2 separate regions of the Homo sapiens genome follow, and region 1 is linked to region 2. Evidence: fine-mapped expression QTL. Tissue or cell type: sun-exposed skin. Region 2 holds a variant in brackets; the other region holds the start of a gene. All regions are shown on one strand. Distances are between the middles of the regions.

Region 1 (8,088 bases), 150 kb after region 2:
CTCAATCCCTACTGATCTCCAACATCTGGGTCTACAGGACCAGTAATAATAGAGTAGAATAGACCTCAAAGTATTATCACGAAGATTAAATTAGATAATGTGTGTAGAAGTACTTAAAAAACTATAAAGCCCTGTAAACATGTCTGCTGAAGGCTTCAATTCCAATCAACCTACATAATCTTTTCCAGCTAAACGGATATTCTTGGTTCTACAAAGTCTTGACTCATGTTGAGCAACTGGGGAAAATGTCACTTTTCAATATAAATAATAATTGATAACAATAACATGTGTGAAGCCTTCATTAAAAAGCAGACCCTCTTTAGCTTTAGAATGGAGAAAACATGTTGTTTTTTAAGGCATCATTATGTCCACCTGTTGGATCACTTGTGAGAAAAATAACAGTTGGTGTAATTTCTTGCCACGTGGGAATCTATTTGGGGGGGTTCCTCTTGCTGGTCTTCACCTTTGTGTTGGTGTTCCCTAGGCTTCTGCCCTTGCTCAGTCCTCTTCTGAAACCCCATCAGAGGTCAAAACAGAAGAACTTGCTAGAGCCACATGCTGATAACTAACTTGAGTGAAGTGAGCAGGACAAGTGGGCTGGAGAGTGCACACTCCACCTACAGGAGGCAGCCTTGGCTCAGTGTCAGCCGACCCCTTCAAGGGCCTTGATATTCTCAAATGGTCAGTATTTTTCAGTGTGAATGTGAACTCACCTAGTTTGTAAATGCTCCTCCTGCCCCTTGACTTCCTAACCCAAGTCTTAGTCACTTCAAGGCTTTGCATTTTACCTAAAACGAAAATTACTTCCCTGCTTAAATCCTGTGGCTGGCTCCCCATTGACTAGGAGTGGAGTTCAAGTTGTAAATTCGGCCCCTACTGGCCTGTTCTCCAGCAGGAACCACTACTGGCTCCCTGCCATGCCACACGATGGCTGCTATGGGCAGGCACCTGCTAGAAACAGTGTACACAATGTGGATCCAGGCACAGCCCCTTCTCTTAAGTTGCTACCAGTCTTTTTGACATACTAACTGGTAAATAGGCCTCAGCACACAGCGATCTCATAACCTTCTGTTGGGCCCTGTCCTGGCCCACTGCTTAATAATTACGATGCGTTTATGGACTCCTTGAGGAAAGAAACTGGTATTTGGAACACAGTGGTTGCTCAATGTTTGTTGAAAGAATAAATGAATGTGATAAAGTTAATTTTAGTTCACCTCTCTGTAGTTGGATGTTTTTAGGTTTCATATGACTATAACTTTAAAATAAAACCTAGTTATTTAAAAATTCAACTAACCAGACTTCACCACAGGTTTTTTTGTTGTTCTGCTTTTTACATTCATATTTAAGAAGAAAAAAAAATCAAAACAAAATGGAAGACAACTACCACAAGTTCTTCTACACCTACTGCCTCTAACACATCCACTGTTACACTCTGGGGTTAAGTCAGGTCCTGTTCATTGTCTTAGCATTCTACAATTTCCAAATTCTAGGAGGAGAATTGACATTCATGATGATCCTAAAATGCAAGCTATTTAAACAAGGAATGATTTTAAAACCATCATTAAATTAAAAATCAACTTGGAAAATATTGAAAAAAGATTAAAAGGTTTTCTAATCCATTTTGTTGCTCAAAAAAAAATCCAATTAACCAAAATTTCCTAATTTTGAATGGTGAAGTTTGACTGGCCTGTACCATGCTAAGATCAGCACGTGCTTATTACCGTAATCTCTTGTTCTTCAAACCAATAAATGCTCCCTTTAAGGACAGGTTGGATTTGGTTATTTCTTGTTATACTGACATTTTTTCCCAAAGAAAGAATTTACTGATAACATACTTCATCACACAATGTTCACAGAAAGATCTTGACAGATTTTTTCAGCAGGAACAGCATTTGCTGCTGGTGTTTGTGTTTTTTTCATTTGATAATACTAACATTAATATGATCCCCCAGCTTCTGTGTCTCCCACCCTGAGTAGCTTTAAATGAAATACAGCATACAGAGACTTGTTCATAATTTCTTGATCTTTCATTTATTTAGTGTTTCTAGAAGGAAAAAAAAAGATGTTTTAAAGCTCAAGGGACTTAACTATAAAGTAGAGGGGAAAAGGTAGAAATACGCGTTGAGGAAACCCAGGAGGCCCCCAGGCATGACTTTTGCTATAGCTTTCCAGAAAGAGAAAGTGGTGCTTAAAGAAGTAATTCCCAATGTTTCCCTCCAGACTAAAATTGGATGAACTCTGAACTGAGACTCTTTGCATCTCATTTTCTCATTAGGTTTTATTACAGCCAACAAAACTTTCAGTGGTGAATTACTTCCCTTCTCAACAGAATACCAGACTCCCATAATGTCTACACAAACTGAAATAATGAAATGGTTTTTAACCAAGCTTTAGGGATTAGAGAGGAAAAAAAAAGTGAAAAAGAAAGGGCACCAGGGTCTTCCCATCTCTATGCTAACCAAAGTGTGGTTTTCCAGCCCTTTTTCTTGCCTATTAACAAAAATAAAAACAAAAAATGGAAATGCCACTGGGCTTGAAACCCCATTTAAAATCAGATTTCTCTTTCGAGTTCCCTTGCAATACAAGTCAAAGTCATTTCCACCAAAAAAAAAAAGCGGTGGGGGGGGGGGGTGTGCAAATTAATCCTAAACTCATGGCTCAGATAGGACCTGGTATAGTAAATAAATGCTTTTAAAAGTAGTCATGGCATTGAGAAATGGCTCCATGCACCTAAACCAGAGGCACCAATGTAAAAACTAGTAATTGTGTTTTAACACAAAAGATTGAAAAGCGTTTTGTTTCACATCCTAATATTATTCCACCCACTTAAAAAGAGTTACTTAATATTGACTCTGTATTAGGTATAAGACAAGTTCTTGCCCTCAAAGAACTTATAATTTAGTTGAGAAACCAAAACTTAACATGAGCTTAAAAAGAAGGATGCAGTACAAAACATGGTATAATTAAGTGCTAAACAATGTAGTATAGATGCTCAGTGACCTAGGAGATCAGAGGAAGGGAAGGGTCACTGAGGGCTGGGAATGTCAAAAGCATGTACTTTCAGTAAGTTCTTAAAATGATAGCATGTTAGAAAGCTGTTATAATTGCTGCTGATTTGTAATTTTAAAGCATTGACATGATTCACCATTGCTTTCCAACCAGTAGCTGTTTAAAAGGACATACAGTTGAGGGTGAAAGGAGATATTTCTTTATGATCTCCAGAGATTTGTATTGAGGGGAAAAAAGACATACTTTCTTGTTGAATAATAGACCAAGAATTGAGCATATTTTGCATGGGGAATATTAAATTCAGTGAACAAGAATCCAAACCTCAGGCTGTGATTCTGGTATAAATTTTTGTTTCTAATGAACCATTTTCTTCCTTCTAAAGAAGATTTAAGTTTTGGGAATAAGTCACCTCAAAAAAATTTTTTTTTATTTTCTAATATCTATTTTCACAATTTATTTTTCTTTTAAGAAAAGTGGACTAGAAGCTCAAGTTACCTTCTCAAGGCAATGAGAATTTTTTAGCTCTAAAAAAGTTGTGTGTGGTAGGGAGAACATTTAGCATCCTTTAAAATGGAGACATCTGAACAGCAACCTATCTTTTGAATCACCAAATCTCAAGTGTACTTTGCACTCTTGGTCTTAAAATGCTTTTCATTTTCTAGTTTGGCAAAAATTCCAGTCTCTTTACATTTGCTACCTTTTCCGTCTTTGCAACACAGGCAGTGTGAGCTAAATTAGGTTTGTTAAAATGAAGTTTTGAAGTTTCAACTGCTGAAATAGAGGCATGTCCCTAACTTTAGACAAATTTAGAGAATCGTAGTAAGCATTATTTTTTTTCTACATACTTGTCTGCATTCAGTGTCTTCCCAAGAAACGTCAGTTAATTCCCCGATTCGAAAAAGGAACTTTCTCGTAACAGTTGTACAACCAGGCTAAAGAGCACACCCTCGTCTTCCCTGAAAGGGAGGAAACATGCAATAATGTGAGGTAATTAAATTTAGCCTTAGAAAAGTCTTTGAAACGTTCTAATCAAGACTTTCAGCTTTCCGATTGTGTGCGCTTTATTTTTCAATTCTTCCTAGTCCCGGTTTTGCATTTCTAATGACAGTGAACTGACAAAGCGTGAAAGTGGTCTAAGGAGCAAAACAAAGCCAGCAAGCCTGCTTCTGGTGTGCCAAGATTAATCAATATTCCAGAAACCTCGGGGTTTCCCCCTCCTCCCTGTGCGGTTTCCATTCCCCACTCCTCCTTTCCCGGGCACAGACTCCTCCCCTTTTCTTAAGTTGCCCTGATAGTAACTTGCAGTTTCAGAGCACATGCACACTGTCAGGGCTAGCCTGCCTGCTTACGCGCGCTGCGGATTGTTGCTCCGTTGTACCTGCTGGGGAATTCACCTCGTTACTGCTTGATATCTTCCACCCCTTACAAAATCAGAAAAGGTAAGTGTCACATTCTGTGTTCCTGCTGGGTTTAATTTCTCCTTTCACTTCTCTGCCGATGTATTTTGCCTTCCAAGCAGAGGAGTAGCCTGAATCAAGGCTAGCCATTTTGGTAGATAAAGTCCTTGTTAGTCATCTCACGTCGTGAGAGTGTGGTGTCTGTTTATGCCGGGTCCGCTGTTAATTCGGAGTTGAGTCATTCGGGGTGGATTGGGGGCAGATTGTGGCGCGAGATCTAGAAAAGGATCAAGGTTGAGCGGATCTGCTTAAAAGTGACTGGTAAGAGGAATCAGAGCTATTAGTTTAAAAAAAAAAAAAATCTGGTCTCTCCTATTTCCCGGTCTTCACTTCTCCCTAAGCATTTAATCCAGTGTGAAGTCTTAAACAAATTAGAAGTCTTAGTATCACTGACCCCAACTTGCAATTTTATTTAAAAGGCAAACTGTTAAGACAAGTCTTTTTTTTTCCTGCACTGGGATTGCGAGAAGTCATTTGCGAGGAGTCCTTTGGTTTCCAGTTACCTCCCCCACAGGCGCACACGCTGGCTGCTTGCGTTGGCAGCGACACACATCCATGGTACGGCTGGTTTTCACTCGGATTGATTATGGGAAGGGCTATGGATTAGAGCTCCTGTAAAGCACCAGGAGGAATCCCTTGATTTTTCAGAACAGCTGATTTCCACCAGGAAAGAGATTTACTGAAATGTAGTTAAATAGCGTGAGTGCTTTAAAGAAACCAGAAACCACAAGCTGTAATGTTTGGAATGAAAATTGGTTTCATCTCATCTGTTCTAGAAATCCTAAATTTTAAAACGCTAAAAAGTCAGCGATAGTTTCCTCGGAAGATTCCAGCATGTGTGTCACAAAGAAAAACACTACTTCATACTTCTACTTGTGATAAACGAAGCTGAATTGTGATTTCAGATGATTTATAGATGTGCCCAGAGCACTTTGCTTATTTCATGGAAAAAAAATGAAAAAATTACCCTGTAAAATAGTCACATGTATTTCCCATGTACTGTGGGCACTTGTGTTCTTTTTATGACCATATTTACTAGTAGATATTATTATATTTTTTTCTTAATGAAGAAAATAGCTGGTTACTTTACTGCATGTAACAGAGACAACTCCCACCTATCAGTATCTTAATTATTTTTATTGACCTGGTTATGCTTTCAACCATGTATACAGCATAATTTGTCAAGTAATGATTGAATACTTTCTGTGCATTCAGTTCAATTGGACATTTACTGATTGTGTACGTTGTGCAAGGCATCAGCTGGGTTCTGCGGGGGAGGGTGGGAATAGGGGTTCTCAGTCAGATCTAGCTCTGAAGAACCCTTTTATAGCCTCATTGGAAGGGGAAGGACGGATTTTTAAAAAGAAAATAGAATATATTCCGAATTTATGCACATTTCTCACACGTGGTCCACTAAAATATGCACACTGCAACCTTGAGGTCTGGTATTGTGGCTCTCCAGTCCTTGATTCCTGCTGAGATTATGCAATTTGCCAAGAGCTTGCCTGGTGTGGAGCAGCACTGATTTCTCACCCCTGGAGGCTATAACTCATGTCTCTTTTTCTCCCATTCTAGTTGTGTTTTCTAATACCAAAGAGGAGGTTTGGCTTTCTGTGGGTGATTCCCAGACACTGAAGTGCAAAGAAGAGACCCTCCTAGAAAAGTAAAATATGACTAAAAGCAATGGAGAAGAGCCCAAGATGGGGGGCAGGATGGAGAGATTCCAGCAGGGAGTCCGTAAACGCACACTTTTGGCCAAGAAGAAAGTGCAGAACATTACAAAGGAGGATGTTAAAAGTTACCTGTTTCGGAATGCTTTTGTGCTGCTCACAGTCACCGCTGTCATTGTGGGTGAGTCATTTGATTAAAAACAAAAAAACCTGTATCTTGTTTCTCTGGGGCATCTGGCTGCCCGGGGAATATTATCAGATGAACTAGTTGTAGGTATCAAAATGGTAGCCTAGGCTTTCCTCTGAACTTGATGATTTTTCTCCATAAAAATGACTGTTTTGGCTTGTTTGGAGCAATATATAGTAAACACATCATTAGGCATCATTAGGCATTATGCAAATCAATTGTGTGAGGAAGAAAAATAAATAAAATATTTTCCCATTTCATGTAAGGATAAGGAAGTGATCATTTAATCATTAGGCATGACAAAGCAAGCATGCTAGATTTGGCCAAAATGTAATTATATACAATGTCAGTTGCACTTAAAACTAATTTATACAATTAGTACACCTAAAATGACATGTTGGTTCCAAATAGTAATTATATTCTAACTGGTGCTGACTTGAAGCTGAGTATCAACGCTTAGGCACAGAGACCGAATATTTTATGTGTTTGCACTCTCTCACCCAGCAACTGGGAAAGGTAGATTGGGGAAAATGTTAACACAGATCTCTTTCATTCATTGCTTTGCAGAGCCTGCCATAACCAGCTATACCTTTTTTTGAATCATTTCCATCTCTTACTAATTTAGCAGGGTTGACAGCAATCTGTACTAATAAAATATTATTGTTTTGTTTTGTTTATTGATCTTAAAAGTTATAGTTTATTACTTATGGGTGGCATTGATCCTACTTTAAAATATAGCTGAAAAAACCTACTTATTTGGAATTTTTGACCAAACCAATACAGAAATCCTTAGATTGACAAACATATACGCCAATGCCAGGTTGTAAAAATATTCCAACTTAACCTACCAATTTGCCACCAAAAAAGAGGCATTCAGTACCGTTTTAATCTCTACTTTGGAGTTTGCCAAGATTTCCATCAACTTTAAAGAGGTAATGATTTAATAAAGATTAAGAAAATTCTGTAGTGTGTAAATATAACTTTTTTCAAGAAAATTGAATTCTTAAATTGTAGACAAATGAAGTATAGCAGGAGAGTTTGTCACAAGATTTTAGATACATCCCATTTTAACATCATTGTCTTCCATTAGTAATCACTGGTGATTAATGATGGTTCAATTAATTTAGAGATATTCAAAGAGAACATGTCCTAACTGACCCAGAGAAGTAATGGCTTTCCACAGTAGGTTTCCAGGCTTGAATATATTCCTGGGTGAAATATTTCAGTCCCACATCATTGTCCTGGAAGTCAATGCAAAATACAGTCTGCTTGCCTCATTTGTCACTCTGAATCAAAGTCATTGCCAAGCCAAGCAATAGCTGCATAATAATAATTGCAAACATTTATATAGTACTATTCCAGCTACTCTGTAGGAGTTTTGTTTATATTAGCTCACTTAATCCTCAAACAAGCCTATGAAGCGAGTGAGAAGGTATGATTACTATGATCTTCCTCATTTTGTAGATGAAACTGACTGTGGAGAGATCAAGCAATTTGCCCAAAGTGACAACACTAGTAAACTCTAGAGCTGGAAGTCAAATTCAGTCTAGCACCGGAGGCCATTCTCTTAACCACTCTATTCTTCCTCTGCTCTGCTGCTAGTTGACATCTTTTAAGAGATGCCAGGAAGAGAAATACCCTCATGAGTTGATGAAGGCCAGTTAGCTAGCAGTGCATTCACACAGCATTGTCATTTAACTGCATGATTTACCCGGTTACCTCAAAAGAAAACTTACAGTTCTCCTATAGACCATTAAGCCACTTC
Region 2 (8,108 bases):
TGCCTGGCTCTTGCACACTTGTCCTCACATGTTTTTATTCTCATAAAAAAACCTGTATCTGAGCACTAATTGTTATCATCCCCAATTTATAGGTGAAAAACCAAGCTTAGAGATAATTGCCAAGGTGGCATTTTACAATTCAACACCATTTTTGTTAACTCCAAATTCCATAGACTTTTTACTCGATCTCACTGTCATTTGGATGGAGGAAAAGGAGAGGAGAAGAGAGGGAGAAACATTGTCTCATACTAGGAACAAATGACTACCAGCAAAGTCAATAGCTACCTACCATAATACCCAACTAGATGGTGATTCAGGATGAGGTGCCTCTTACCCAGACACACAGTAACTAAAGGCAAATTGTAAGTAGGGCAAGCTGAGTCTGGAAGAGGCCAGGTGCTAAGATGAGTGGTCCAGAACACGGGACATATTTGGCCAAAGCCCACGCGTGAAACACAAACTGGTGCTACTGGGACACAGGGCAGTAGAAGACATGGTAAGAAACTTGAGGCAAGCGATGGCTGGTCAGGGTACTGGATAAAAAAGAAGGGCACAAAATGTGACATAGGGGACTTGATAATAATTCTTGAGTAGAAGTATGAGGGAGAGGCAGGACCTCTGTGAGGGTCTTAGGCCAAATGCTGGCTTCATGAATGGGACAGGATGACGTGGGTAATGATAGATCATGGGTAGGTAGAAGACATACGTGGAGGTGAATCCTCCCAAGTGCTCAGATTGGGACTCAGGATTCCTTCTTCCACCTACCCATGGGGAGGCCCTGCAGTGTCTGGGGCCCAGGATCTAAAGGGTGATATTTATTCTCCAAGGTGCCTGACCACACCTGGCCATTTTATATCATTATTTAACTCAACCACTACCAATGTTATGGGACCCTTAAAAAGAGATTGATTGACTGATTGATTTGCTTATTTATTTAAGAAACTGAAGCGTCTCTTCCCTATGTGAATTTTGTCTCAAAAAGGATTCTGTCGTATATATTTTAGAACTTAATCTTATAATATTGCAATATTTTTATCCAAGTCTTTTCCAAACATTGGATTTTTGTGAGATTTGAGGATTAAAAAAAATTCCTTTAACTTCTACCATTTTGCCATCTTTGGAGGATATAAGCATGTGAGGAGCAATGCATGTGATTCCTATAAACTCATATTTCTTATTTTTAAACGCTGGCATTATTTGGGCTGACATCTCCTCAGCCCAAATGATGAAAAGTTTTGGCAGCTGTTTATTTTACCATAATCAAATCCATGCAAGATTCTGAGTCCTGAAGAATGCTGTTTAGAAAAAATTCTAGTAAGGACAGATCATTATATTCAGCATCATGGCACCTTAGATGTCAAGTGCTGTCTTCCCTTGTCAATGCCCATCACTGCTACTCACTCATATGATCACGTGGTCATCCTGTGAACAAGGCAGGTTAGATGAGCAAGCTGAGACTAAGCTTTCTGAGACTGAAATTTTTCCTTTGTCAAAATTGGGTGAATACCCAATTTCCTATTCAAACATTAATATAATTTGAGCTAAGGTTAGGATTATCCAGCCCCCACTCCCACGCATTGTCTGGGTAGATAAACCTCTCAAAGGAGAAAACTGGAAGGGAAATAAGGTACATTTAAATTTCAATCTCTGGCTTGATAGATTGGTATTAAATTTGTCTTTAATGACTCTTATCCTACATTCCTATCTTATTACAGTCAGCTGCAAAAGAAACAACAATCCTGAATGTACCTTAAAGGGCACAGGAGGATTAAGTAATGGATGAAGAATGTCCTGACAAGTCTGTCAGGCTTAAACTTTGGAACATGCAGAACATGCCTCAGAGTCTCAGGAGCAATGGGCCCAGTGAACAATATCATTGACATTCTGGCTTTGATTTTTTTTTTTTTAAGGAAAACCTATTTTAGGCCTTCAAACTTTTGTTTTCATTTTACTGTATGTTGTAAACTCGAGCTGCACTGTTCTTAATGGAAGCCACTGGCCATTCATGGTTTTTGAGCACTGGACATGTGGCTAGTCCCAGTGGAGATGAGCTGTAAGTATAAAAAATGCCCCAGATATTGAAGACTTCATGCTAGGCAAGGAAGTAAAATTGCTCATTAATAATTTCATATGGGTTACATGGCAATATTTTTGATGTATCGTGTTAAACAAAATATATTATTATAGTTAATTTTACCTGTTTCTTTTAGTTTTCTTTTTTGAGACGGAGTCTCACTCTGTTGCCCAGGCTGGAGTGCAGTGGTGCAATCTTGGCTCACTGCAACCTCCACCTCCCAGATTCTCCTGCCTCAGCCTTCCAAGTAGCTGGGATTATAGGTGTGTGCCACCACATCTGGCTAATTTTTGTATTTTTAGTAGAGATGGGGTTTTGCCATGTTGACCAGGCTGGTCTGTAACTCCTGACCTCAGGTGATCCACCCGCCTTGGCCTCCCAAAGTGCTCGTATTACAGGCGTGAGCCACCGCACCCAGCCTCTTTTAGCTTTTTAATGTGGCTACTGTAAAGTTTAAAATTATGTTTTGGTTCACATGAGTGGCCTGCATTGTATTTCTTTCACATAGCAGTCGTCTAGAGAACAATTATTTCTTAAGAACTGTGAAGAGTTTGAGATTTTATCCCACTTGCAAGCTAAGAAGTCACCCATCTACAGTTTCATGGATGCCGGTAGAAGACACCAGACTCCTGTGTCAAAGACAAAGGATAGTTTATAACTGACAGCAATAGCGGTAGCCAGAGTATCAGCATATTTGTACCACCTCACCAAGCCCCAATTTCCACAGGGCCAGATGACACCTATACATGTAGCGTATTGCATTACAGGAGAAAAACTTTGAATGTAGAGAACTCAAATCTTTTATGAAGTGCAGTAAGCAAACCTACTATTTGCTCTGGAGAAAGACACTAACTCTATTTTCTAAGGCTGTTAACTATAAAAATGTATTTGAAAAGATAATCCAGGAAAGAGGATAATCAGCGCATTCCTTGCAAGATGTACAGAAATGTGAGAGACTGATGGAGAATTATCTACTAACATTCTCATTTCCACAGGTCTGCTTTTCTTAGACTGTGCATTTCTCTGAGAATGTTGTATTTCTACAGACTAATTTAATACGTATTGTTCAAAAGCCGACATTAATCCCTAACTCGCTGTAATTTCTGGAAGGGTTTGTAATTTTCTTACTGAATTGCACAGCCTGGTCTTAACCCTTGCTTCTCTTCTTTGAAAATAACTCATTTTTTGGAAATCATTGGATTACAATTTCCTTAATGGACCTTTGGCACTGTGTAGAAAAGTAAGACAGGAATGAAAAAAAAAACACATAAAATAGGCTGATTCTCTGGGCACGCACATGGAAGACACATTTGGGAGCACTGGCACTTTAAAAACATTGGTTTCACTGAACAGTGATTGGAAGTTTCCTCAAAGTCTTGACTCCAGAGCCTCAGTTCCCATGACAGCATACAGGTCTGAACAGGCTCTGTCTTGCACCTTGGAGCATGACACCTTCAAAGCGTTTTACCAACATCAAGTAATTGATTTTCACAATGTAGTGGAGAGCTTGATCATTAAGTACTATTATCCAGATTTGACTGGCTTAATTCACTTGCCTCAGGCTCCAGCAGCCAAGTCAAAAGCAAGAGGTGGATTCAGAATATCTGGCTTCCATCCTGTATAACCCTAGGCAATGTCTGTGTTTTT[C/G]CATATAAAACCACTCCTCCCTGTCCTCTTAAACACATAAATTAAGTAGCAACTCATTCAGCAATACTATATTTTCCTACGCTGTTGCTTATAGACTATTTTTCTTCAGTTCTTTTAAAATGATAACTATTTGACTTTTAAGTGTTTTCATTCATTTAAATAACAGATGCACATGAAAGACAAAAGCGGGGCTGTGTATGCAATGAAAAGTATTCTACATTCCTTCACGGTCATTCAGCCACTTAGTTCTCCCTGGAGGCAGTCCTCCTTATTTCTAGTGAATATTTCCAGAGATAGACCATGCATTTACAAGTATGCCTATATCTTTTCTATTATGTAATTAATATGCATGCTATACATATGTTTCTGCATCTTGCTTTTTTCAATTTCAATTTATTTTTCTCTTTCTTTTTTTTTTTTTTTTTTTTTTGAGACAGTCTTGCCCAGGCTTGAGTGCAGTGGCGCAATCTCGGCTCACTGCAAGCTCTGCCTCCCGGGTTCAAGTGAGTCTTGTGCCTAAGCCTCCAGAATACCTGGGATTACAGATGTGCGCCACCATGCCCGGCTAATTTTTGTATTTTTAGTAGAGACAGGGTTTCACCATGTTGTCCAGGCTGGCTTTTTTCAATTTTCAACCTTGGAAATCATTCTATATCAGTACTTTCAGTGCCTCATTCTTTGAACTGTACCATGTGTTGTCAGTATCCTCTTTGGGAACATGGAGATCATGGAGTTTGTTTCTAATCTTGCTATTACAAACAGCATCTATTTAGCCAATACTTACCCGTACTCACTTTGTGCCAGGCTCTCCAGTGAATATCCTTGTACTTATGTCATTTCTTGCACTTCTGCTATCCTTCTGCAAATTATATCTAACACAAAGTAAGTATATTCACTGTAGTTGTAATTTTCATTTCCCTAATTATACATGAATTTGAGCATCTTCTCAATTGTCTGTTTTGCTATTAGTTTAATGATCTTTGACTTACTGATTTGTCACTTCTTTTAGAATTATGTGTATGCCCTTTGTTTTTGATATGCATTGAAAATATTATCCTGGTTTTAATTTCTCATTTCATTTTGTTTATTTTTTTCTCACCATGTAGATATTTTTATTATTATACAATCAAATTTATCAATCCTTTTTATATGACTCCTAGGTTTTTTGTCCTACTTGGAAGAAAAATTTTCTTATTGTGAGATAATTTAGAAAAATTTTTTTTTCTGGAATTTTATACTTTCTTTTTTTCTAGTTAAATCATTGATCCATCTTCAAATAATTTTGGCCTTACTTGAGGCAAGAATTCCATTTTCTTTTTTCCAGATGTCTTTTAGATTTTCCCAATACTGCAAAGACAATTTAAGAAAAAATAGTTTAACTTCAAAGAGTTTTATAATTTATTAAAAGTACTATATTTCTTTTACCCAGTGTGTATTCTATAGGAAGATGAGAAGATGTGTGTCTTTTCCCATCCAGTCCATTTTAGTAGTAAGTCCTTCCTTAATGGCCAGGGCGTAACTTGCCTATTTAATGGTCAAAGCATACTGGCACTCAGCTGCAAAAGAAAGATACCAGGAGATGCAGAATCAGAGGACCCAGCTAAGCTGTGCCTTGGATCCTGACACACAGAAACTATGAGATAATAATTGGTGTTGTTTTAAGCCACTAAGTTTTGGGATAATTTGTTACACAGCAATAGAAAACACAATGGGCACAGATGAAGGTAGAGAAGTCCATATAGAAGTGGAAGCTGTTAGATATGGGGTCTAAATTTCTTTTCAAAAAATCAATATGTCAGTATGTTCAATACTTTGCCTTCTACTTTTAAACTTAACTTCCTTATAAAGCAACCTTTTTCAATTATCTGCTCCACCCTGACGCATTCTGATTACCTGCTCAACCCTGACTCATTACCTGCTCTGTCATAACCATTTATCCCCCCAAATCACTCACCCCATCACTCTCTTTAAATTAGCTAATCGGAATTAGTTTAGCCTGTGCGGTCTAACCCTAGCCAATAGGGGAACGACACAGCAGCAGGGGCCATGTGCGTCAGGGATAAGAACCCCTTCCCCTCCCTTGTCCAAGTGTGCACTCACCATTGCTCCATCTGTAAGGGCGCACCCTTCTATAGAAGTAACTTGCCTTGCTGAGAATTAAAAAGAAAATTTTATATTCAAGTGCTATTTCTTTTGCAGCACCGAAACTTTATTTATAACAAAGCCAATGGTAGTTCTTTTCTGATTGCTTTCATTTTCTCAGTGACAAGGTCATCAGCTGACAGTGAAGGTGCAGCAAGATGTAATAGAGGTTAAGGAGAAATAAGAAGATACCAAATAGATGCATGGGAGAGTTAATGGACCAGGAAAGTATAGTCTGATTGACAAGTATCTTAGAGGCTAATGATACTTGTGGCCATAAATGTAATGTGAGAACAGTCAGCATAGCTGCGTAGTTACCTGCAGCCATATTCCCCTGCGTGAGTGCAGGCACAGAGCCAGCAGAGATTTGGCTGTCGCTGGAACTAGCGTTTTGCCAGGTGAGCACGATAAAGGAAGAAGAGGCAAGGAAATTGAAGGTGTATGCAAAAGAATAAATATTATGACATACCATGGAATATAGCCTTGGTACACTGAAAATGAAGAGTGTAAAAAGACAGTGCAATCAATCATTATAGGTCCTAGACTTGGCTAGGCTTTTAAAAATCAGAATTTAGCCGGGCGCGGTGGCTCACGCCTGTAATCCCAGCACTTTGGGAGGCCAAGGCGGGTGGATCACGAGGTCAGGAGATCAAGACCATCCTGGCTAACATGGTGAAACCCCGTCTCTACTAAAAATACAAAAAAATTAGCCGGGTGTGGTGGCACATGCCTGTAATCCCAGCTACTCGGGAGGCTGAGGCAGGAGAATCACTTGAACCCGGGAGGCGGAGGTTGCGGTGAGCCAAGATCGTGCCATTGCACTCCAGCCTGGGCAACAAGAGTGAAAGTCCATCTCAAAAAAAAAAAAAAAAAAAAAAAATCAGAATTTAGTGGAAGTGACCTGGAATAATGAAAAATGATGTACAATTATTTTAGAAAATAATGTAACATCATTGTGCAAAATTGAACATGCTTATGCTCTTTGGTTCATTAACTGTGCTTCTAGAAAAACTTTTGCAAATATGCACCAGAGACAAGTACAAGTTACTTACAGAAGAAGAGTTAATGATACCAAAAATGTGGAAATGGTACACAGAAAAAAAAAATGAGTGAATATATTTTGGTAAATTCACACCATAGAATGTTATACAGCAGTAAAAACAAACTTCAGCTATGCACAACAGCATGGAGATGTTGTATGTATGGTATGCATGAATACAATATATAGTATACGTAATGTGTGTATGGTTTTTACGTATCATACATAATGATACGTAAAACATGCAAGTTACAATAGACCACATGCATATAGTAGACAATACGCACTACAACAGACTACATGCAATATCATTTTTATGATGTTCAAAATAACTAAGCACTCTACTGCCTAGGAATACATACATATATGATAAATTCATTTTAAAAATCAAGAGAATTAAAAGCATAAAATTTGGGATAGTAATTCTTCATGCAGAGGGGATAAGGAAATGATGTGGTAAAGGAAAACAAGTAGATGTAAATAAAACAAATAATATAAGAAATGGTGGTCAAATATTGGGATTCTTGAAGTTGAGATTCTGGAGTGGGTAAGATTACTGATAAAAACAGGGCCCAGGAGGCATGAACATAGGAGTGAGTGACTGAGGTAGAATGGAGGATGAGATGTTGGAGGAGGGGAGGCTGAGAAACTGAAAGCTCAGTGTATGGGAAGACTTATTTGTGTGGATATTGAAATCACCAAAAATACAATGGGTGTAGTGATAGAAAAATGACGGTGATCCAGGAGGGAAGGGAAGTGATGTTAGAGCCAGCAGATGGTTGCCAAAAGGAAGGAAGGTGGCAGACAACATAGTCCCATGTTGAAACTGGGTGTTTTTATGGAGGATATGGGACAATGGCTTGGGAGCAGCACTGAGATGCAAGGAAGACACTCATCCTATTCCAGGCCCTGTGGCGCCAGGCACGTGGCTGAAAAACCAGTGACCTGTATAGAGGGCTGCAGGGGAGCAGTGTCTTGAGGGAGGAGCCAGTTAGAACAAGGACATGAAATAGGTATTTTAGAAATGAGAGGCCGGTCATGGTGGCTCATGCCTGTAATCCCAACACTTTGGGAGGCCGAGGCAGGCAGATCACCTGAGGTCAGGAGTTCAAGACCAGCCTGGCCAACATGGTGAAACCCCATCTCTACAAAAATACAAAAATTAGCTGGGCATGATGGCGGGTGCCTGTAGTCCCGGCTACTCAG

Direction of the effects. Alleles are on the strand shown, and positions count from the first base shown. SD is a standard deviation of normalised expression in the study named.
With allele G in place of C in region 2, the expression in sun-exposed skin of the gene that starts at base 4,319 in region 1 is lower (small effect, 0.34 SD a copy in GTEx).

Evidence for each region. PIP is the estimated chance that this variant, and not a neighbour inherited with it, causes the effect.
Region 1: it holds the start of SLC1A3, and the variant in region 2 is fine-mapped to the expression of SLC1A3 in sun-exposed skin (GTEx, PIP 0.99). The same link has a PIP of 0.9 or more in esophagus mucosa.

What each region holds. Positions count from the first base shown.
Region 1 is chr5:36,602,288-36,610,375 of GRCh38, forward strand. It overlaps SLC1A3 (solute carrier family 1 member 3), which reads left to right and starts at 4,319. Exons shown (of 10, transcript NM_004172.5): 1 at 4,319-4,448; 2 at 6,042-6,317. The coding sequence starts at 6,137. RefSeq lists an enhancer at 4,426-4,525.
Region 2 is chr5:36,449,002-36,457,109 of GRCh38, forward strand. No RefSeq gene overlaps it. Among named protein-coding and RNA genes, the nearest start is that of RANBP3L, 150 kb to the left of the region's middle. The variant C/G (reference allele first, on the strand shown) is at 3,722.